Linked DNA regions of Homo sapiens: all the other regions are linked to region 1. Evidence: fine-mapped expression QTL. A gene starts in region 1. Each other region holds a variant in brackets. All regions are shown on one strand. Distances are from middle to middle.

Region 1 (8,181 bases):
GTGGCCACGGCTACTTAGAGGTAGTGTGTCAGAGGGCCAGGTACTAACAGTTAAGGGGGCTAGCCAAGGGGAAGGAAAGAAAAAGGAACACATTTTAATGGATCAGGCCCTACTGCAAAGGCATTTGTGTGTTTTTCGTTGGTTGGTTGGTTGGTTTGGCTGGTTGTTTTTTTAGAGACAGGATCTTGCTCTGTTGCCCCAACTGGAGTGCAGTAGCCTGATCATAATTCACTAACTTCAAATTCTTGGGCTCAAGCAATCCTCTTGCCTCTGCCTCCTAAGTAGCTAGGACTATAAGTGTAAGCCACTGCGCTTAGCTAATTTTTTTATTTTTTGTAGAGAGGGTCTCACTATGTTGCCCAGGTTACTCAAACTCTTGGCCTCAAGCAATCCTTGCCCTCCCAAATGCCTTGGTTTCCCAGAGTGCTGGGATTACAGGCGCGAGCAACTGCATCCGGTCAAAAGGCATTGTTTTAACTGCTTCCTTAGGCACATTATCTAATATTCACAGCCACCTTTACTCTGCACATTGGCTAATTATCCTCATTTTAGCCATGAGAGATGAGAGAGTCATGAGAGAACTGAGACTCAGAGAGGTTAGGTAACTTGTCCAAATTCATATAGCTGGGAAGAGAAAGGTCTAGGATTCAAAGCTGGCTCTGTCTTGACTCCAGAGCCTATGTCCTGTTCACTATACCACACTGCTTAGGGACCAAGAAAAAGGTCTGAGAAGCTAAGGGAAGAGTACACTACAGCAAACTCAAATGCTTTTGGGAGCAAGGCAGGTAACAAAAATGCATGAAGGCCTAACATGAAGTAATGATGCTAAGGTGTTTATTACATTCCTATCCTAGTTGTATTCCCTCTTATTTATTTATTTTAATTTTTTTGAGACAGAGTTTTTGCTCTGTCCCCCAGGCTAGAGTGCAGTGGTGTGATCTTGGCTCACTGCAACCTCCCCGTCCCAGGTTCAAGCGATTCTCCTGCCTCAGCGTCCACAGTAGCTGGGATTACAGGTGTGTGCCACCACACCCAGCGAAGTAGAGATGGGGTTTCACCATGTTGGCCAGGCTGGTGTTGAACTCCTGTCTTGAACTCCTGACCTCAAGTGATCTGCTGGCCTTGGCCTCCCAAAGTGCAGGGATTACAGGTGTGAGCCACTGCGCCTGGCCTGTATTCCCTTTTAAAACAGAGCACAGAGCAGGCAAAATAACCAAATTAAACAAAGCCTTGGGCTGCCAGCCATGGGATACTGTATAGTCCTGATGCTGAGATATCAGTTAAGGGAAGGACCAAAAAGTATTCATGGTGAAGCAGTTTCAGTGGGGTTCAGGGAGCATAATACCAGTTGCAATGAGGTGGGGAGTGAGGATGTTAAGGAGGTTCCAGTTGTGAGTGTTGTCAACTCGTTCAAAACACTTCACTGGGAAGGAAAGGAAGGAAAACAGACTAGCAGGGATGGAAGGAGAATGTTAATATGGGAAGGACTTGGGCTCAGTTATGGCAGGACAAGACTTTTCAGTGGTGTGGTAATGAGGAAGAGGCAGCCTGCTGACAAGTTCAACTGGACTGGGGGAGAGGAGGTGGCCAGGTGCAGGAGATGGCTTTAAAAAGGTAGTTGGCCGGGTATGGTGGCTCTCACCTGAAATCCCAACAACTAAGGAGTCTGAGGTGGAAGAATCACTTGAGGCTAGGAGTTCTAGGCTGCAGTGAGCCACCAGGGTGCCACTGCATTCCAACCTTGGGCAACAAAGTAAGACCCCTATCTCTTTAAAAAAAAAAAAAAAAAAAAGGTAGCTGGAGCCTGTGGAGAGCCTGGAATGCCATGCCAAGGCATCTAGACTGTGATCTGGCAAAGAGTAGGAAACCACTGAAGGGATGTGTCATGTTGACAGTGATGCTGGCCGGGCGCAGTGGCTCATGCCTGTAATCCCAACACTTTGGGAGGCCGAGGCGGGCAGATCACCTGAGGTCAGGAGTTCGAGACCAGCCTGGCCAACATGGTGAAACCCCATCTCTACTAAAAATACAAAATTAGCCGGGCATGGTGCCCTGGTCCATGCCTGTAATCCCAGCTTACTCAGGAGGCTGAGGCAGAAGAATCGCTTGAAACCAGGAGGCGGAGGTTGCAGTAAGCCGAGATCGTGCCATTGCACACCAGCCTGCGCGACAAGAGTGAAACTCCATCTCAAAAAAAAAAAAGTGATGTCTTCTGACATTTAGCTTAGCAGCCAGTGCAAGGTAGAAGAGAGAAAAGAACAGTGATACAGAGGAACATAGCAATGCAGACAGAAAAACAAATGAAGGGATGAATGTAAGAAAGGTGTTGGAGGAAAAAGCATAATATGATGACTGATAAAAGACCCTGGGAAACAGATTTGGAAGCCAAGGCCCAAGTTTCAAGTTTGAGTAGCTGGAGGGAAAGATAATTAGTAGGTTTTGGAAGTACTGAAATTTACAGAAATGGTTGTTCATCAGAGTAAAAATATACAGCAGATGGCAAAAAGTAATCCTGGAGCTTAAGATGGAGGTAAGGAAGGGAGTCGCTGCCCTCAAAGAGAAATGGTTGGGGCCGGGCGTGATAGCTCACGCCTGTAATCTCAGCACTTTGGGAGGCCCAGGCGGGCAGATCACCTGAGGTCAGGAGTTCCAGACCAGCCTGGCCAACATGGTGAAACCCCGTCTCTACTAAAAATACAAAAATTAGCCGGGCATGGTGGCGGGCGCCTGTAATCCCAGCTACTCGGGAGGCTGAGGCAGGAGAATCGCTTGAACCCTGAAGGCGGAAGTTGCAATGAGCCGAGATGGCGCCACTGCACTCCAGCCTGAGCGACAAGGGCAAAATCCGTCTCAAAAAAAAAAAAAAAAGAAAAAAGAAATGGTTGGGAGGCCTTCGGAACAGCGTCGAGGAGGGAACTTCCCAGAGCCCCCAGGCGCATCCTCTGGGAACTGGACACACGGGGACGGACGGGACTGGTTTGCTTCATGGAGTATGAAACCAGGAGGGGCTTCACTTCAAGTAAACTTTTGGGAGGCGATGCAAACGACTCAGGACTTCTGATCCTTCCCTCGTCTAAAAGAAAAGTCAGTTACCATTTTTATTGAGTGCTTTCGGGGCCTTTCCATGATCTGACTGATTCCTCTCAGCCGCCCTGTGATGTGAGTGCCAGCTCCATGTTACGTAAGAGGAAGCCAAGGCTCAAACCCTGCCCGAAGTCACACAGCAAGAAATCACGAGCCGTGATTCCAACCCAGGTCCGTCTGACCCGAGCCTGCTCTAATGCCGTTCTGCCTGGGCTTTCCTCTGTTATAGGAACCTGAGGCCCCGCGCCAGCGGCCGGGGTCCCAAGCGCCGGGCTGGCTGTGTCGAGACCACCCCCAGCCCTGGCCCGGCCCTCGCCCTTTCGAGGGAAACCTACTCTCAGAAGCACAGCTCCCCAGCCGCGCCCAACGCCGCGCCGGCCTCTGGCTCGGACCAATCCCCCCGGGACGGTCCACCACCCAGACCAATTAGCTCCCGTCTTCAGGGCACCTCCCACCAAACCGCCTTCTGATTGGCTCGCTCTTCCCGTCACGGCGTTGCCCCAGCAACCGGACTATTGGGACGCTGCGGCCTGGCCTTCAGGCCACTGGCTACCGAACCCCGGGGCTCTTCACCAGTCCAGCTCGTTTCCAGCACCATGTCGGTGCGGACGCTACCGCTGCTCTTCTTGAACTTGGGCGGGGAGATGCTTTACATCCTCGACCAACGGCTGCGGGCCCAGAACATCCCGGGAGACAAGGCCCGCAAAGGTGAGAGGCCCCCGGCCCGCTCAGCCAGACCCGCAGCCAGCAGCCCGGCCCTCTCATCATCGCCCTAACACCCACAGCCAGACCCGCACCCCTACACACTTCACTCTTATAACCAGGGACCTTTCTTACAAGCCACATCCATTTGGAGCCCCTCGGGAGTCAAATCCCCCCAAAAGCTTTTTTCACAGCAGAGGAACTTAATACTCCCAGTGGACACTAGGGTGCCTGACCTCCCTAATTTCCCCATCTCTTCAAATGGGAGAGGTGATTTCCCAGTCTCTCTTGTCAATCAGTGCCTTCCAAATGTAGGAGTCCCAGCTGCCCACCATCTAGTATCATACCCCTTGCTAGTCCAAGCATCCTCTTTACCCCCAAGGAACAGGTTCTGATTTTTTTTTTTTTTTTTTTTTTTTTTTTTTTTTGAGACAGGGTCTCGCTCTGTCGCCCAGGCTGGAGTGTGTGGCACGATCTCGGCTCACTGCAACCTCTGCCTCCTGGGTTCCAGCGATTCTCGTGCCTCAGCCTCCCAAGTAGCTGGGATTACAGGCATGCACCACCACACCCAGCTAATTTTTGTATTTTTAGTAGAGATGGGGTTTCACCATGTTTCCCAGGCTGGTCTTCAATTCCTGGACTCAAACGATCTGCCCCCCTCGGCCTCCCAAAGTGCTGGGATTATAGGCGTGAGCCACCGCGTCCAGCCCAGGTTCAGATTCTTAATTTCTTTATGGTAGTATCTTCCCACATAAGCTGGAGATTGGTCTTACTCATCTCAGAAGTATTTCTAGAAATTTGGTGTTCTAAAATAATATAGATAAATATGAAAAAAATAAGAAAGTTATAAATCTCCTCACAAGTGTTGGAGGGGAATACAATTGTGAAAATAATTATATGAGAGCTTCGAAAATGCAAAATCTGCCTCCCATGGACACCACACTAATCCCCAGAAAAATGACGACTCAGAACACTCTGCCACTCTGTTCCTTTTCCTCTTTTCCTCCCTTCTCGGCAAACAACTTGCTTATACCAAATTTCCTAGGATTAAGTATGAAGGAAATATTATATTTCAAAGTGGAGGAGGAAAAGTTGAAAAGGCAATTGACATGGCCGCCAATTAAAACATTCTCTCCATTAATCTTTGTATGCTCAATTGATGTTCAACATACATATTCAGATGCTAAGCATACATATTCAGATATTAACTATTGTGTGTGTGTGACTGAGTGCAAGTCCATGCATAAAGAGCTAAAAATAACTCCCTATAACATACCCCCTCCATTCATTCTGCACATTGCCGCCAATGAGCTTTCTAAAATGTGTATCTGTCCAAACTTGCCCCTGCCTAAAACCCTTTGTCAGCTTTCCACTGCCATCTGGGTTAAGACCAAGTCCTTGCACAGGCCATTTCAGGGCCCTTCCTTATCTGATCTCTGTCTTCCTCTGCAGTCCCTTCTTCCACCACTGCCTGCCTCCTGTTTCCCAATAATACCAAACTGCTCATAGATCTCCGCTTAAACCATGTTTGTTCGTATTTCTGTGCTAGTAATTCCCATCCCTACATTCTTCCCCTTCAATCCTGCATTATTCGGCTTAAGAATCATCTCCTTCAGGAATCCTCCCCATATGCAGAAAGGGCCTGTGCATGCTCTCATAGCAGCCTGTGCTCCCATAGCACCCCATGCCTGCTCCTCAGTACCTTACCACTGGCCATGCTATACTGAAATGATCTGTGTATATGTCTATCTCCCGCTTGATTGTCTTATTCATCTTTGTACTCCAGCACCTACCATAATTCCTAGACCAGAATAAATTAGTGATCACAAAATGTTTTTTGAACTGATTATCTAAATTGGCAGTTTTATATAGCATTGTCATTTTTCCTTTGAGAGGGTTCTGTTTTCCTTGGTGCCTGTGTGATCTGATTTCATTCAGGCTAGTGGCACCAATGAGGTGACATGCTGGAGTCCTCAGACTGGTAGGTAGTCTGCATCTTGGAAGATAGTGTAAATTAGCAATTAAGAACATACTCTCTAGAGTCTTACAGACCTGGATCCCAATTCCAGCTTTACCATTTAACTAATTGCATGCCCTTTGGGTGTAACCTCTATAAACCTGTTTCTCCATAAAATGGTAATAATACATATATGTTAAAGCAAAGTTGTAAGGATTGAATGAAATAATGTATTTAATATGTTTAACACAATGAGTAATAGGTATCTTTCAAGAGGAGGTCTGGACAAGGCCCTTGGAATACTAGAGGACAGCTTTACCTTTAGGAGTTATAGCCTTTTTTCTGCTTTTGCTAAATATGGTTTTGGGAGTTTCGGCCATCTTTAGTAATTTACATTCGCACACTCATTCATTCCACAGATTTTGACTGAGTGTCAAACACTATGTGAGATACTATATGGAGCCTGATGCAGCCCTTCTGGACATTCACTGGAGGTAGGGCTATTGATCAGTCCACTCCAGTAACTGATTCTAGTGACAGCAATCAACAATAAAACAATGAAAAATCAAGCACTTACTTTGTACCAAGGGCTCCTCTTAAACACCTTAATCCTCCCAACTATTGTAACACATAGGTAATATTACTATCCCCATTTTACAGATGGAGAAACTAAGACTAATTTGCCCAGAGTTACATGGCTGGTAGGAGGAAAAGTAAAGGATTTGAGCCCAAGGCATCAGGCTCCAAAGTTCATACTCAGCCAATGTCCCCTTACTATAACCAATGTCCCCTCATATAACCAATGTCCTCATACTCAGCCAATGTCCCCTTACTATAACCACTTAGTCCCCTTACTATAACCACTATACTCTGCTGCCATACCTTGGGGACTATATCAGAATCTTAGTGGGGGTTGGTAGGTCAGGAGGAGAGGGAGGAGTCTGAAAAATATATATCCAATATACCCACTGATTTTATCAAATAAATGACAAAATAGTTGGCTGTTGGAGATCTGTAGAAGATAGAGTGAGAAAACAGGGTAGAGAGCATAGGATTCAACGGGCTGAGAAATACTCATGTCTTCCACCTATTCCACCATTTAAAGTTGTTGTGGCCACAGGAGCGAGAGCCCCTGTAACAGATCCCTGTACACAGGAGCCTATAAAACACTAGACTTGGTAAACTAGTCCTCTTCGAAGCTTTGAGTGGAAATCATATTTCTTCTAGATGTTTTCATTATCTTATACGACTAATTGGTCTCCTGGAGGCCATCCCTGTTCCCACAAGGCCAAGGCAGATGTTGCAGCTTCCCCCACAACGCAGCCTCTAGTTTAGCATTCAACAGAAAGGAAGTGCTCTCTCTATGAGGCAACTATCGAGTGTTGCATATTGAATGTTGTCTCCTGTTTAAAGCAATGGCGAGAATAATAAAAGCTACCTTTGCCTCTTAAAAATATTTATAAATAAGACCTTATTATCTTTTGCTTACATTCCTCATTTTACAGGAGAGGAAACTGAGGCATGTGGCCACAAAGTGATTTTTCCAAGACATGCCAATCACAGTGTAGCACAAGCAACCAAAGGGCAGTGAGACTCTGGTTTTATTTTTCTAGTTCCAGTTTAACGACTAGCTCTGAATAGCCTTGGGCCTGCCCCCACTCAAAACAGAACTAAAGTGGAGTTGTCACAAATAAGTCATCTGGAGAAATAATAGAAAAAGAGGGTGTTTCTCTTCCCTGTATTCTCAGGAGGAAAGGAGTAGGGGAGCACACAGCACTACAGAGACCCCTGCTGGCGTTCAGCCTGCCTGCCTTCGGGAGCATCTGCCAGTTCCATTTTATCAGCGAGAGTCACTGTCCTTCAGAGATGACCCCCTTGCAGCACCACTATTCCCCAAACACACCTGCAAGGGGATTAAAACTCCACCTCCTTGAATTCCCACAAGTCTATCACACTATACCACCAGTTAAATAAATGCTGCAGGGGCCGGGCGCAGTGGCTCACGCCTATATTCCCAGCATTTTGGGACGCCGAGGTGGGTGGATCACCTGAGGTCAGGAGTTCGAGACCAGCCTGGCCAACATGGTGAAAACCCATCTCTACAAAAAATACAAAAATTACCCTGTTGTGGTGGCAGGCGCCTGTAATCCCAGCGACTCAGGAGGCTGAGGCAGGAGAATCGCTTGAACCCGGGAGGCAGAGGTTGCAGTGAGCTGAGATCACGCCACTGCACTCTAGCCTGGGCGACAAAGCAAGTCTCCCTCTCAGAATAAACAAATAAAAAATAAATGCCAGGCCGGGTGTGATGGCTCACACCTGTAATCCCAGCACTTTGGGAGGCCAAGGTGGGCAGATCACCTGAGGTCAGGAGTTCAAGACCAGCCTGGCCAACATGGAGAAACCCCGTCTCTACTAAAAATAAAAAATTAGCCGGCATG
Region 2 (8,181 bases), 670 kb before region 1:
TCCCAGCAAACATTATTTCAAAGGTCAGTGTGCAAGGCAAGTCTTTCTTTCTGAATCTTCACCTCCTGTGCCCTCCCCGAGTGTCTCCCTCTGTCCACCTCTGGGTGTGCATCTTTTTCACGTTTGGTGCCTTCCTCTCCAGCAGCATCTTTTGGTCTTTCCTCCTATCTTTTCCACCTGTCTCTCTCGTCTCTTCTTGGGTTCTGCCTCTTCCCTGGCTGTCTCGGATCAGTCCCGTCTGCTTCTCTGTCTGTCTGCCCTCAGGCCCCTCACAATCCTTCCCCCCATTTCCCCTGCCAGGTGCTGTTTCCAAGGCCACACATCAGTGTTTCCCATCCCTGAGTGATTTATACACCTGGTTCAGCCCAGGCAGTGCTGAGTGGAGCCTGTGCTGTTTTGGGAGCTGGTTCCTGCAAGGCAAGCTCCACCCTCCATCCCCAGGCAACAATCTCTGGGCATGTCCAGTTGTTTCTATTTTCTTCTGCTGGTTTGGGCCCCACACTAGTGCCACCTGCACCCCTGCCCCGTGGTCTTCCTGTACTCACAGACAGGTCCCTGAGCAGGCTCTGATCTGCCCCTCTCCCTCTTGTCCCTTCTTCCCCTGGTCTGTCTCCCCAGGCCTCTGATGCTACTCCTGGCTCTGCCTCCACATGACTCTCTTTTAACTAAGTTTCTCTCTCTCTCTCTATACCCCCTCCCTCTCCCTCTCTTGTATGCCACTGTCTCTCTCTAGCTGTGCCTCTATCTCAGTCTGTGCCTCTTTATATTTGTTTCTGTCCCTCCCCCATTTAGCATACAGCATTTCAGTGATGCCAGAGGCTGCAAGCTGGTGAATGTGGAAGTTGCAGATCTCTGAGGATCCAGTTGTGAAAATTATACAGCATCACCTCTGCTGCATTCCACTGGTCAAAATAGATCAAGAGTCAGATTCCATGGGAAAGGAAATAGATTCTGCCTATTGATGGGAGGAGCAGCTAAAAAGTAGTGTCCATCTTTAATTTAACAACCCTCCAGCCTATTCCCCAAGCCAGATTACCCTCAGACATCTGGGGCCTGACCTGGGACCCTGGGCCACACTGTCTCCACCCTGGCTCCCCCCTTGTCTTTCATGTCACGTTGAGGAAGTTTCCTGAACTCCCAGTGACACTGTTGTCAGGGCCTGACTTACCAGGAGAGCATGAATAATTAAAAGCTGTATCTGAGGCTTGTTCTGATTTAAGCTGTATTAGTGTTGCCAACTGTCCTGACCCATTTAATATTCATGCCATTCTTGGCTCTTTTAAAGAGAGGGAAGTTTGCTACCTGATTGAAATTGCACCTGTCAGTTTCGATTAAAGATCGGGTTGACCACAGTTGCAGGGAAATTAAATGAACATTCTCTTAAGCAAAATCATAGAATTTAATGTAGCAATTAATATCTATTGCAATGTGCTGCCATCACAAGCTGCTTGAAATGTAATGTAAGGCTCATGGGGGATGAGGCCAGCAGTGCCCCAGAGTCTTGAGTCTTCAGAAATGGGTCCCTAAACGGGCCTGGTATTTAACTGACTTCTTTCTCCGACAGGAGCAGAAAACACAGATAACAGCTATTGTTCCTTAAGGCTTGGGGTAGATCATGTAGCCTTTCATCCAGTTCACATTTGGGAAAACTGAGGCATGGGGCATCAGAGACTTGTTCAAGGCCAGTTTTGGTTTATTGTAGAAGTGGAGCATGAAACAGTGGGAGGGCCAGCCCCTCAGGGTCAGGAACACCCAGGTGACGGTGCAGACACTGCAGTGGAGGAAGACACGGGGAGACCGTCTGAGCTCTTTTCAGGTAATAGTGCTGGGAATGTCTCTGAGGACCTGCAGGAGTGGAGGTCATTTAGGGTGAAGAAGTGGCAAATAGGTTTCAAGGTGTGGGCTGATTCTGATGGATTAATAGCAACCATCCTGGAGAAGGGCCTGAGTGGGTGCCCTGATCAGATAGCTGGATCTGCCATGGGCGAGGAGAGGGAAGTGGTATGTGAACGTGTTCCCCGCCTGCTGGAGGCAGAGGGCCACATAGAACAGGCATGTAACTGTAAGCCCTGGTTTCCTTATCTAGAAGACAGGATAATAACCTACTCCTGAGAGGGTCAGTGTGAGGAATAAACAGGCACATCAAGGCAAACTATGGGCTCACAAAAGGCTGTGGTGCCCAAGGGCTAGGAACGGAGGCTCAAGAGTAGAGCAGGTTGGCTTTGAGTCCTGCGTGGGTGTGTGTCCTCAGGCAAAATAACCTCTCTAACTCAGTTTCCTCAGCTACAAAATGTAGATAATAATTGTAACTTACCTCATAGATTTGCATGGAGGTTAAATATGTTAATACATGTAGCATGCTCAGAACAGGACCTGGTCCAAAAAATACTATGAATATTTGCCATTTCTAATGTGATGGTAAGAACTCAACACAAACAGGATGGAAATTGGTTGTTACTATCATATGAAATTGCTTGTCTAATGCTATATAAGAATAAGGCAAGCTGGGCGTGGGCACTCACCCCTGTAATCCCAGCACTTTGGGAGGCCAAGGCGGGCGGATCACCTGAGGTCAGAGTTCAAGACCAGCCTGGACAACATAGCGAAACCCCATCTCTACTAAAAGTACAAAAATTAGCTGGGCATGGTGGCAGTTGCCTTTAGTCCCAGCTACTTGGGAGGCTGAGACAGGAGAATCACCTGAACCCAGGAGGCGCAGGTTGCAATGAGCTGAGATGGCACCACTGCACCCCAGCCTGGGCAACATAGCAAGACTCCATCTCAACAAAAATCAATAAAAGAATAAGAAATTCATTTATTTTATTCTGTTCATTTAATCCGATTTATATAAAAGCTATATATATAGTATATATATAAATAATATATAAGTTATGAAGACAACAAAACAAACACCAGTGTTTCCACCCCAACTGATATGGTTTGGATTTGTGTCCCCACCCAAATCTCATGTCGTATTGGAGGAGGAGCCTGGCAGGAGGTGATTGAATCATGGGGGCAGATTTCCCCCTTGTTGTTCTCATGATAGTGAGTGAATTCTCATGAGATCAATGGTTTAAAAGTGTGTGGTGGCTGGGTGCAGTGGCTCACACCTGTAATCCCAGCACTTTGGGAGGCTGAGGTGGACAGATCACTTGAAGTCAAGAGTTCGAGACCAGCCTGGCCAACATAATGAAACCCCATCTCTACTAAAGATAGAAAAATTAGCTGGTCATGGTGGTCCATGCCTGTAATCCCAGCTGCTTGGGAGGCTGAGGCAGGATAATTGCTTGAACCCAAGAGGCACAGGTTGCAGTGAGCTGAGATCGTGCCACTGCATTCTGGCCTGGGTGACAGAGTGAGACTCCATCTCAAAGGAAAAAAAAAAAAGAAAAAGAAAAAGTGTGTGGCACTTCCTACTTTGCTCTCTCTCTCCCTCCTGTTCCATCATGGTAGGACAAGCTTCCTTCCCCTTGGCCTTCCACCATGATTGTAAGTTTCCTGAGGCCTCCCAGTCATGCTTTCTGTTAAGCCTGTGGAATTGTGAATCAAATAAACCTCTTTTCTTTATAAATTACCCAGTCTCAGGTAGTTCTTTACAGCAGTGTGAAAACGGACTAATACATCAACCTAAAAGCTAGAACATTCTGAAGCCACTGAAACTCTGGGGTGCTTCTCTCTAACTGGGGCCCCCGTTCCCTGCCACAGGTGACTCTCTGAATTTTAGGTTTATCATTCCCTTGTTTTCTTTAAAAATGTAGAGTCAGTGGCTTCTTGTAAATCAAAAAAAAAGTGTATGTATTTAGCAACTTTTCCATCAACTTTGTTTCTAAGATTCCTGCAGGATATTCATATGGCTGTAAGTGTAGTAGTCCACAAAGTGGCTCTGATCCACCCTGCTCACCCAGTTTGGGGTTTTATGATCACCACTGCTGTGAAGATTTCTGCTGGTGTCTCCAGGTGCTCATGGCAAGCATTTCTCTAAGGTGAGCACTTAAGAAGGAATCACTGGGTAGCAGGGCATGACAGCCTTGCTTTTTATGACTTTACCAGGTCCCTGGATGTATTCTGCAAATCACAAGGAAATCACACCAGGTCAGTCCTGGTCCTGCCAGAGCTCAAGGATAGG[C/G]AGTGGACATACCGACCTCTCAAGGCTCCAGGGCTCTGGGATTCTGCAGAACTGACAACAACCCTGTGTCTTCTGCTCGTCTACTCCCACTTTTCACACCCAAAACCTACATGGAGCTCCCCAGGACATAAGGTTCCTGGGGGATGAACAAGGTGAGCCCTGGGCTTCCACCAAGGGCTAGGGGCTGCATCTACTCTTCCCACCTCTTGGCACCAGAGCGGGGAAAGCAGCATCAGAGGAGAAATGGAAGGATTATGGATACCTTCAGTGAGGTCAACATAAGTAAACTCTACAGCTCAACTTCCACATCTGTTAAATGAGAGACTGTCTGCCTCAGATTGTTGTGAGAATTCAAGTGAATTAAGTACAGTGCTTAGAAGAGTGCCTGCCATGTAGGAAGCACCCAAGAAATGTTAACGATATTATCACACACACAAATACACAAACACAACATCTATTCACCAGGTTACACACACATACACATACACATACAGATACACAGTAATGGCTTCCATTCACTTAGCTTATTTAATCTTTACAAGAATCCTGTGATGAAGGGATTCCCATTCCCATTTTATAGCTATGGAAATTGAGGCCACACAGTTAGTACTTGACTATTCAAACAGAGGCCTTTCTAACCTGAAAATGCAGACTCTTAATCTCCATGCTGTCCATCCCCTCTGCCTCTCCCACCACAAACATCACACATGTCACACAGTCCATTCGGTGTTTTATTGAACATCCTATATGTAGGGTGAGGCTTGGGGCTGTCAAAAAATATGTATCTCATGCAACCATCACAACTGTGAAAGGTGGCTATTATTTGATCCTTATTTGACAGGCAAAGAAACTGCAGTTTGGAGAGATGAAGTGGCTTGTTCCAATTTTCCCACTCAGTATGTGGCAGAGCTGTGACTCAAATCCATGGGCCCTGGAGCCCATGGTCAGCAGACTTGGGGAGCAGGTAGCCTTATGCCTTAGGTGAAGGCCAGGTGAGACTCAATCTATACAGCAGGTGCAGGTATGTGCATCCCTCCCTGCTGAGCCCCATGCTGAAGATGCATGGTAAGGAGATACCCAGGCACTGTGTGACATCTCCAGGGGTGGCCTCATGGGCTTTCCCTAATTCATTATGTTGGCCCGTGTCTGAGGAATGGCTGGGGAGGCAGAAGGGGTGGTCTTTAAGGTGTAAAGAGAATGGGTCCAGAAGCCCAGCATTGTCTCGATGCTTCCAGCATGGTCTTGGGAAGAAGGTGCCCTATTTGGTCTGCACAGGACATCACCCCAGAATGAAATGTGCAGTGATGGTTGGTGGAGGGAAGAGGGTCTCAGACCACCATGGCTCATGCTGACATCCTTTAAGATCTCCTTTATCAACTCTCTGGATCTAATTCTAGACCCCCAAGTTGCCTTCAGATGGGAATTCCATTTCTTTCCATTTACATGTGTCCGTGGGAAAAGATAGCACTGGTCAGCTGACCCCAGGTTCTGCTCTGCTTGACAATTCTATTTCTCATTATAAAGTGATAAATTGGCTTCTATGAGGGTGGCTGAGCAGCAAGTGGTTTTGAAACTTCAGGGAGAATAAGAATGACTAGGCTACTTGCTAAAATTGTAAATTCCTGGGCCCTCCCAGCATCTATGCTTCCAGGTCCTCTGAAGTGGAGCCAAGACTATGCAGGTCTAACAGGCTTCTTGGGTGTTTCTAATGCCGGTGATCCCAGTCCACATTGGAGAAACACACACAGAGTTGTGTCAATCTGCTGTAGTCAGGCTAGGCTGGGCTCTGCCACATTAATAAATATACTCTGACATCTTGGTAGCTTAACACAACAAAGGTTACTTTTCGCTCACGTCACAGTCTGATGTGGGTTGGGTAGTAACCCTTGGAGCTTTCCTCTTTGGTGACTCAGGGATTCAGGCTCCTTTCATCTTGCCCGGTGGATGTCTTCAGTACCTGACCTCCAAGGTCACTGATGAAGGAGAAGAAAAAGCATGGATAATCACTCTCCCAGGTGGGTTTTATGATCTGGCTTAGAAGTGATATCTACCGATTCTGCTCTCACCCATTGGGCAGAACCCATTCACATGGCCACAACTTAATTGTGAGGGAAGCTGGGAAATGTAGTCTTCTTGTGTGCCCAGGAAGAAGAAAATAAAATGGGACTTGGTGAACATACAGTATTGTCTCTGTCACACAGTTGGATCCATTCTGGGTGCATTAACAATACCAAGTTTCTGTACCTGTGAGGCAAAGAATAAGCGGCTGGGCTGTGTCTGCCTCCAGGAGGCTCTGCCAGCCTTCTCTTATGTTTCTCAGCTCACTTTAGAAGAAGTTCCGTCTCTTCTTGGTTGGCTACAATTCACAGCACAGTCACCACTTGCCCATCCTGTCCATGTGGTGATTGACATACCTATAGGATTTATCTTTGATTGAGTGCAATATTGGTTGAAGGGGATGTTTTAGAAACCACATTTGGGATCAGTGAGATCAATTTTTGTAATTGACTAGTGATGTCTGCCAAGGGATGGGAGGGGCTGATAATGGCATGAGTGCCCCACATTTGTCATTCTTGTCATGCCATTGTTAAAACCAAGTCTGATTCTACATAGCCCATCCCCACTTCTGCAAGTCCAAGTCTATCCTGCTGGGGAAAGAGTTAAGAATGTGTTTTGAATGACTTCTGGCACATGTTAAAAGAACCATAGATATTAGTTGTTATCTTAGTTCTCTCCCAATATTGGTTGGTTTTTCTGAACTCAAGGTAGTATAGCTGTATCCTCTCATGATAAGGATTTCACAAGTTAAATCTTGTAGATGTGGGCTGTCAACACAGAGTAGAACAGCACTGTTACCTCCCTCTTTCTATGTACTCTGACTCTATTAATACAGCCAAAGACTGTGTTTGTTTCTAGTGACACATCACCCTAGTGATACATGTTGGTCAGTTGTCTAAACACTACAAATCTGTCTCATGTAATTGCAACCAAGCTCTGTGTCTCAGCCTGTCTGCCTTTGTTCAGATTTTCTTTACCCGAGATTAGGACTTTGCATTTACCCCTGCAAGTTCCTGCATGTGTTTCATCTTGTTCAATTCACCCTCTAGATTGTCAAGGTCCCCTTTTTTTGCCATGAATATTCTTTTGTCTACTCTTAAATTGACTTTTCATAGCCAATGTGAAGCCTGGGTTGGCTCACAAAGAAACTTAGGCTGTAAGAATAATAATCTTCATCCTGTATCCAGCACTTGCTATATGTCAGTAGTATGTTCTTTACATATATGATCTCATTTGAACTTTATAATACCATGAGGTACATATCATAATCACCATCTTACAGGAGGAGAAGTCAACCTCAGTCCCAAGGTCTCACAGAAAATGATAGGGCTGGGATTTGAACCAAGGTCTATTGGATACCAAGAGTTAATGCTCCTGGCCACTGTATCACAATGCCAGAATGGAATGAAGACCACAGCAGAACCTAGTGCAATACTTGGAGTTGTTCTTGCAGACAGAACCTTCTCCAGCTAGTTTGAGTAGAAAGGGGTTTATTACAGGGATCAGGTAGCTCATAGAATTGCTAGGAGGATCAGGAAATAATGACAGGAGAAATATTCTGCAAACAGTAGAGCTTTTCTAGGGAAACCCCATGGCCACCACCTCCCACTGCTCAGCACCTAAGACCTGGGAATTGACTGCAGCCCTAGTGGGAGCTTCTCTAGGAGACCCCACTGCTACCACTGCCTGTGGCTCACTTCTGCCTTCTACGTCTCATCTGGTCTTTCTACTTGGAGAAACCTAGATCACACACGCAAACCTACTTATCAGAAGGTGTCAGAGAAATGCAGCTCTAGCTCTCTAGTCTCTACTGTATAGGAATATCCGTTGGAAGGATGAGAGCATAGAACTTACCATACTTGGGAAGCTCTGGAAATTTCAGGAAAATCCTGGCATCCTGTCTTCTAAATGAGCCCTTATTCAGTTCACATGTCACTTCTCTCTTTTTTTTTTTTTTTTTGTTTGTTTGTTTGAGACAGGGTCTCACTCTATCGCCC
Region 3 (8,181 bases), 30 kb after region 1:
CAGTGAGGCAAGATCGTGCCACTGCACTCCAGCCTGGGTGACAAAGTGAGTCCCTATCTCAAAAAAAAAAATAGTTCTGTTTGTTAAAATACAGTTAACTCTGCAAGTGTAATTTTTTCTCCCTTCTTTTTTTTATTTTTTTATTTTTTTGAGATGAAGTCTTACTCTGTCGCCCAGGCTGGAGTGCAATGGCACGATCTTGGCTCACTGCAACCTCTGCCTTCCAGGTTCAAGCAATTCTCCTGCCTCAGCCTCCTGAGTAGCTGAGACTGCAGGTGCCCACCACCACGCCCGGCTAATTTTTTGTATTTTTAGTAGAGACAGGGTTTCACCGTGTTAGCCAGGATAGTCTCTATCTCCTGACCTCATGATCCGCCTGCCTCAGCCTCTCAAAGTGCTGGGATTACAGGCATGATCCACTGCGCCCAGCCTCTCCCTTCTTATTGTTATAAACTCATAGGTCATGTTCCCAAACCATTACGCACTTTCCACCCTCAGAATATTGATGTCTATGAAAATATACCAAGAAAAATGACAATAAATGTATTTTTTTCCAGGTATCCATGTTTCTAAAGGACAAAGTTCAGAATAATAACGGTCGCTTTGTGTTGCCGGTGTCCGGGCCTGTTCCTTGGGGAACTGAAGTTCCAGGACTCATCAGGTGAATTCCCAACAATGATCAGAGCTATGTTTGGGGTGCTAGGAAATCAGCACATGGGCCGCACACGGAATGCCGCACTGCCAAGCCACTCACAGTCTGCCCAGCCCTTCTCTTTCTTCAGTAAAACAGCTATTGAAAAAGTCAGGTTCTAATCCCCACCTTGTCACTTAGTAGAGGGACTTGAGGCAAGTTACCCAGTTCCCCAGGACTAATTTCCTCATCTGTTAAATGGTTACTGTGTGGATGAATAAGATAATAGTGCTCTAACGTGCTTACAAAGCAATTGGCACATACATATGCTCAATAAATATTATTATTGTATTATTATTATTATTATTACAACCAGCACCTTTATCTTGAAGGAGAGCATGTATTCCTTTTTTGTTCTGTAGTACAAAGAATAAAGAAGCCTCCAGGACTACCTAAGCTTGGAGAACATTCCATCATGTCATACTTTGTATTGTAGAATGTTCAACAACAAAGGTGAAGAAGTGAAGAGGATAGAATTCAAGCATGGTGGAAACTATGTCCCTGCACCCAAAGAAGGTTCTTTTGAACTTTATGGAGACCGAGTCCTGAAACTGGGAACTAACATGTAAGCAAATTCTTCTCTGAGTGAATTCAAGTCCAAGGGAGGTCACTTCATTTAAAAAAAAAAAAAGAGAAACAGCCAGACTTCTGCTATGAAAATCCCTGCCGACAATAGGAGTAATTTCCCCTTAGGTACACTGCATACAGAGGCCTGACATTTCAAAGGGCACCCAGGAACGCCAAACATAAGGCAACTCAACAGAATGAAAAGATACATGATGTTCAATAGCCATGCAAGAGAACTAGCCAAAATCTGTGTTGCAGTGGAAATCCAGAAAGACTTATCCGTTCTGTAAAGCTGCATATATTTTCAGTGATGCGTGTTACTCTTCACAAGAGGAGGCATTGCCACCCAGCCTCCCCAGGTGTTTTTCTTTAGGAAGAAGTGAAATGTGAATGGTTAACACACACTCAGTTGCATTCTGTACCCACAGCACCTTTCTGGATGCTATTTAATGTCTCAGAATAAAAGCTACAAACTATGCTTACGAGTTAGAGAGAAGTCCGTGGAAAGGGGCTGGATAATGTCACCATTTTCTGTTGACACACCAGGTACAGCGTGAATCAGCCTGTGGAAACTCATGTGTCTGGATCATCAAAGAACTTAGCCTCATGGACCCAGGTGAGCTTCTGCCTTCCTTGCCTACCCTCACAGCTTCTCTCTAGATACGGAAGTCTACATAAAGAGAGGTGAGAACGCTTTAGATTTCGGATCTAGCCAACATTTCCCCTGTTGTGTGCAATCTTCTCCATTCCACCTTACGAGTACACAGGTTTTAATTGTAGCTTTTCATGGAGACTTCCAGTGATCTCACTAATTAGGTAATTTTAGGCTTGGCTCGGCCACCATAATTAAGAGGAACCACACACCAGGACATATGCAGTAGCGTAGTACCAGTGCCATTAGGTCCGTGATTGCTGACATCAGCACTCGTGTGTATTCTGATCATTAAAACATTTCTTTTTAATGTTTCCCTCTATAGCACCGTGGTAGCTAAGTCAGAGTGGGGGGTTTTAGTTTCTCTGAATTCCATCCTTAGAAGTTTTCGCTGAACTAGCTCCCAGCTAGCTGTAGGAGAGATCACAGAATATTAAATTATTCAGCAAACATTTATTAAACTGCTTCTATGGGCTGGGGACCCAGGGACACGAAGCTGACGTAGATGTGGTCCCATCTTGAAGGGGCCTGTGGTACCCTGGGAAAGACGGTGAAAGAAACAACTCAAATGAGGTGGAGGAAGGGCTGGCTGGGGATCCTGCACAAAGTGCTGTGCCAGAGGAATTCATGTCTGTCCAGTGGACAGGGATCACAGGGATCAAGAAGGCATTTCAGAGGCGGGGATATTGAAGTGGGGCTCTAGAGTAGGTAAACTATGAAACAGCAGAGAGGGAGAAATGGGCACACGGACCAAGGTGACAGAGGGGCAAGAGTGTTCCCGGGAGGAGGATGGCGGTGTCTCCCACGAGGCTTACGTAACGGATCACAGTATCATGGAGGCTTGCTGGCAGAGACTCGCCTGGACAGGACCCTGGGGCCTGACCAGGAAGGGTGGTAAACAATTTGGGCTTTGTTCTTTCGACAGGAGGCAGAGGGCTTTGTTTCAAGCCAGGGAGAAATGAGACAAAAACTGCATTTAGGTAACTGGTGGTGGAGTGAGGGGAGAGGCAGAACAGGGGAGGCCAGGCTACAAGGAAGAGGGGTACAGGATGAGGCAGGATGAGGACTGTGAGAGGAGGGAATGGACTCGAGGGTGTGTTCCCGGCCGTCACCACCTGAGGGCAGTGTGGCAGCGCCTCTGGAAGGAGACTGGACTGAGGCGACTTGTAAATGCTGAGGGAAACCGATTGACAGGAAAGGAAGCCATACACTTCTTCAAGGAGGAAGGTAGTGAGAGGAGAAACGTGGATCCCTGGGGCTTCCACTCTTGCGGAAAGTATGAAAATCTCTGGTTTGCAAAGTTGCTACATTCCCTCTGCTACTGACGTGATTGTTTTTCTTTTGGTTAAGGCTGCTTTCTACACTTTATTTGGACCCAGAAATAATTTAAATAGCAATTGTTCTACCTTATTTTATAATACCTACCTGTGTCTCTGAGGTTTTAGCAGGAAATGTGATTGCCTTCATGTGGCTAAAAATCATGCAACTGTTTCTGCAGGAAAGCATTGCTCCAAACCCTCTTGCTAAAGAAGAGCTGAATTTCTTGGCCAGGCTGATGGGAGGGATGGAGATTAAGAAACCCAGTGGCCCTGAGCCC[G/A]GATTCCGGTTGAATCTCTTTACCACCGATGAAGAAGAGGAGTATGTTTTAAACCTGTTTCGTTAAAGACATATAAAAATCCCAAGCATGACAAGAACACAAAATGACTATTACAAACCAGTGGCACTTATAAATATTTGTGTAAATATCACAAATAAAATACCAACAAATTTAATAATCTAAATAGCCCACCAGGATGAAATGGCCTGAATCTTCCAGAGTCATTCAAAAAAAGAGATGGGGCCGGGTGCAGTGGCTCACGCCCGTAGTCCCAGCACTTTGGGAGGCCAAGGCAGGCGGATCACAAGGTCAGGAGGTCGAGGCCATCCTGGCTAACATGGTGAAACCCCGTCTCTACAAAAAAAAAAAAAAAATTAGCTGGGTGTGGTGGCACGCACCTGTAGTCCCAGCTACTCGGGAGGCTGAGGCAGGAAAATCACTTGAACCCGGGAGGCAGAGGTTGCAGTGAGCCAAGACTGCACCATTGCACTCCAGTCTGGGAGACACAGCAAGACTCTGTCTCAAAAAAAAAAAAAAAAGAGACGGTGTGATGGTGCGCACCTGTAGTCCCAGCTACCCACGAGGTTGAGGCAGAAGGATCGTCTGAGCCCAGGAATTTAAGGTTAAGCAAGCTGTGATCATGCCACTGCATTCCAGCCTAGGAGAGAGAGCAACACCCTGTCTCTAAAAAATGATAATAAACAAAACAAAAAAAGAGTTATAATGTTTTACTTATCAGAGAACAGCTGAATAAGCAGTGTTAGAAGCCAGGATGACCAGATTAAGACAGTGTGTTAAGAAACCAGAGTGAGGTTGGAGCTTGATTTCCCTGTATTAGACAGTATAACCCAAAACCAACAGCAATAGTAAATCACCCACGGTGATTTATAGTGCTTTACAGTTTACAGAGCACTTTTGCATGCATTATCTCATGTGATCCTCCTCAAAACCAAGTATTTGGCGTGAGTGTCACCTTTCATTGAACTATTAATAACTTCTTTTGTTTAATTCTGTGTGACAGGTACTATGTAAAGTCCTGGGAATGCAAAGATGTAAGACCTAGAGCCTGTCCTCAGGAAGCTCTCAGCTTAGTGGGAGAGTGAACGTGTACAGATATAAGTTATTTCAGTGCTGTGTCATGAATGCGCTAATTGAGGACAGTGACTGACTTTGCACTGGCAGATTGAAGGAGCTGGCATTTGATCTAGGTCTTGGAGTTTGCCAAGCAGAGGAAGGGAAGAAACATTCTTGGCAGGGCTTATAATGTGCAAAGTCACAGAGAGATAAAAGAACTTGACTTTCTAGGTCGTAGGGTACATTGGTGGGAGATGGGGTAGAAAGTTTAAGAGAAATGGCAGATGAGGCAGAAAAAATAGGTTGCCAACTGATCAAGAGCCAGTTTGCCATGCTGGCAGGGAAAGAACCCTAATGTTGCACCCATTTTCTTTACCATCTCATCCAGACAAGCAGCGCTAACCAGGCCAGAAGAGTTATCCTATGAAGTTATCAACATACAAGCCACCCAGGTACGTACAGGGGATAACACAGGGTCCAATCGTATTCGCTTCCTCATCTTTTTTTTTTTTTCTTGAGACAGGGTCTCGCTCTGTCACCCAGGTGAAGTGCAGTGGCTTGATCTCAGCTTACCGCAACTTCCACCTCCCAGGTTTAAGCAATTCTCATGCCTCAGCCTGCCGAGTAGTTGGGATTACAGGTGCCCGCCAATATGCCCAGCTAATTTTTTTTTTTTTTTTGTATTTTTAGTAGAGGTGGGATTTCACCAAGTTGGCCAGGCTGGTCTTAAACTCCTGACCTCAAGTGATCCACCCGCCTTGGCCTCCCAAAGTGCTGGGATTACAAAGGTGAGCCACCGTACCCAGCCTCCCTTCCTCCTTTCCTCATCTTATATAACGTTGAACTTCAGAGACCCTCTTTTTCAAGCAGGATTCAGACTACAATATAGCTGTTAAGTGCTGTATTGTCATTCCCCCTGCTCAAATTAAAGTTGTTTCTTAACTATACCCATCTGCTATTCTGTAGCAGCCAGGGATGCTTGGTCACATACATGTTGATTAAGAAAAAAAATATATAGACCCTCTTCTTCTCTCTGATCAGCCTGTAACTACAATCCCTTTTCTGACAAACAGGTGCGCAACTGAAACATATCAGTCATGGGACAAAAAACTAAGTGCCTAGTGCACAAAGAGGCGGCCTGCCAGCACAGCCTCTTCATGCCCTTTTACCTCTCATTTCCCTCATAGGACCAGCAACGGAGCGAGGAGCTGGCTCGAATCATGGGGGAGTTTGAGATCACGGAGCAGCCAAGGCTGAGCACCAGCAAAGGGGACGATTTGCTCGCCATGATGGATGAGTTATAGCTGTTCTGACCAGGCGTCCTCTGCCCCCAGGGAGAGGCTGCTGGATGGTGACCCCTGGGGAATGCCCCATGGCCCAGAATGATGCTGCTAGTTTTCTACTGAGTGAAGCCATTACGTCTATTTCTTATTTATGTTGTAAGGAACTGTGTGAGTCTCCCTTGAGGAGCACTCACTCTTGAAGGCACACACATACACATATTTTCAGTGAAATATATTCTGACTTTTAAACTTGACCTTTCCCATTTTATTCTTAATTCTGTGGCAGCCACCAAAAGCCTCCTGAGCCATAGGTTTGAGCCCCAGAGTGGGTAAGGGGTCACCCCTACTGTCATTTTCAGGATTACTATTTCAGCTTTCCTGTGGGGATCTACAAAGGCCTGTAAACATTAACAAAATCCTTGGCTTTCTGGGATACATTCTGCCTGTAGGCAAGCTTGAAATCAATGACTGTTCGAGGCAGTTGCCATAAACAGTGAGGGCTCAGTGTAAAAGACCCTCTTCTCCATGGCTCACTAGGAACTGTAACCTCAGAGGAAGAGTAAGCAAGGCCGTGACAGGGAACACTCAGCTGGCCCCAGGCAGGACATGCCAGCATCTGTACTTCCCGCACGTCCGTCTATCCATGCGGTGTCAGTTTATCCCATACTGACATGTATACCAAGAGAATATTTTCTTCTTTTCAGCATGACATGTACTCCTTACCCCCAGGGTCTTCCTCTACCCCTGAGTGTGCTTTGCCTTCTAAAGACACCCAGCATAGGCCGGGCACAGTGGCTCAGGCCTATAATCCCAGCACTTTGGAAGGCTGAGGTGGGCGGATCACGAGATCAGAAGATCGAGACCATCCTGGCTAACACAGTGAAACCCCATCTCTACTAAAAATACAAAAAAAATTAGTTGGGTATGGTGGCAGATGCCTGTAGTCTCAGCTACTCTGGAGGCTGAGGCAGGAGAATAGCATGAACCTGGTAGGCAGAGCTTCCAGTGAGCCTAGATCGCGCCACTGCACTCCAGCCTGGGTGACAGAGCGAGATTATGTCTCAAAAAAAAAAAAGATACCCGGCAGGATGCACTGTGACATCGGTCTCCTCTGCATCACCGTGAGTCACCAAACAGCACCCTAGATTGGGTGCATGGGAGGCACGTGTGGTATGCACCTTTCCCTTCTGCATTCTAGCTGAGCCGCTTCCCTGGGCGGGAGCAGACTTTGCAGGATGCAGCAGGAGGCCAAGTCTCACTGGAATCCATGTAAAATGTCTCCAGCCAGGGCTGCCCTTACTGCTTCAGAAAGGCGCAGCAGCCCTCTGCCATAGGCTCCTTCCCAGGACTGAGTAACTGGCAGGTTCAGACCCATTCAATCCTATGGAAGGAATATCCAGAATGGCAGAGGGCTGGAGAGAAACTAAGTTGAGCTGGACATTGCCTGAGATTGGGCCAACTACAGGAACCTCTCCATCCCCTCACACCTGGGACGGACCAAGGTGAACATCATTCTAGAATGTAATGGAAGCTGCCCTTTGGCTTTTCCAAAGGCAAAGGGTTTAGATACAGAATGTAAATCACCAAGGGCTGGGCATGGTGGCTCATGCCTGTAATCCCCAGCACTTTGGGAGGCCGAGGCGGGCAGATCAGTTGAGGTCAGGAGTTCGAGACCAGCCTGACCAACATAGAGAAACCCTGTCTCTACTAAAAATACAAAATTAGCCAGGCCTGGTAGCGCATGCCTGTAATCCCAGCTACTCAGGAGGCTGAGGCAGGAGAATCGCTTGAACCCAGGAGGTAGAGGTTGCAGTGAGCCAAGATCATGCCATTGCACTCCAGCCTGGGCAACAAGAGCGAAACTCTGTCTCAATTAAAAAAAAAAAAAAGAATATAAATCACCAAATAAATGTTAATTGCTCCCTACCCATTAAAGTTACACTTCCTTACCTATAAAGACACCCTCCCCCTCCACATACTCACGAAAAGTCTGTTGGGGAGGAGAAGCATATTGTGCTATAAAACACCTGTTGCATCAGATGTACAAAGTGCCTTTCGTTTTAGTCTCTTTTCAGCAATCTGGCCACCATTCAGGGGGGCCTGACTGGGTGACAGATGAATGGGAAGGTTCTGACCTGTTTTGAGTCCGGCTCCCACCTTGCTGTCACATATCAGAATGTCACTGCTCTGAGTGTGTCCCAGGGCCTTGGAGGTGGGCCGTGAGGTGCCGAGAAGCAGCCGCAGCCTCCTCCCTCCACCTATCCCAGAGCGATGCTGGTGATTTCAAACGTATCTGTCCTATCAGTAAATAAACAAG

Alleles and levels. Positions count from the first base shown, and alleles are read on the strand shown. Sizes are in standard deviations (SD) of each study's normalised expression. Not every link is listed here.
For the expression in testis of the gene that starts at base 3,599 in region 1, allele G in region 3 goes with a higher level than allele A (small effect, 0.31 SD a copy in GTEx).

The links.
Region 2: its variant is fine-mapped to the expression of OSCP1 in subcutaneous fat (GTEx, PIP 0.91).
Region 3: its variant is fine-mapped to the expression of OSCP1 in testis (GTEx, PIP above 0.99). The same link has a PIP of 0.9 or more in esophagus muscle, nucleus accumbens, ovary, prefrontal cortex and tibial nerve.

Annotation. Positions count from the first base shown.
Region 1 is chr1:36,445,869-36,454,049 of GRCh38, reverse strand. It overlaps OSCP1 (organic solute carrier partner 1), which reads left to right and starts at 3,599. Exons shown (of 10, transcript NM_145047.5): 1 at 3,599-3,792. The coding sequence starts at 3,681. It overlaps LOC107984940 (a long non-coding RNA gene), which reads right to left. Exons shown (of 3, transcript XR_001737976.2): 3 at 4,485-4,592. RefSeq lists a silencer at 3,204-3,473 and an enhancer at 7,388-7,682.
Region 2 is chr1:37,111,513-37,119,693 of GRCh38, reverse strand. No RefSeq gene overlaps it. Among named protein-coding and RNA genes, the nearest start is that of MIR4255, 46 kb to the left of the region's middle. RefSeq lists an enhancer at 4,776-4,945. The variant C/G (reference allele first, on the strand shown) is at 4,127.
Region 3 is chr1:36,415,843-36,424,023 of GRCh38, reverse strand. OSCP1 (organic solute carrier partner 1) reads left to right here. Exons shown (of 10, transcript NM_145047.5): 5 at 558-661; 6 at 1,128-1,256; 7 at 1,805-1,874; 8 at 3,409-3,548; 9 at 4,970-5,033; 10 at 5,769-6,118. The coding sequence ends at 5,885. SNORA63C (small nucleolar RNA, H/ACA box 63C) reads left to right here and starts at 5,446; the gene lies at 5,446-5,576. RefSeq lists an enhancer at 2,287-2,786. The variant G/A (reference allele first, on the strand shown) is at 3,508.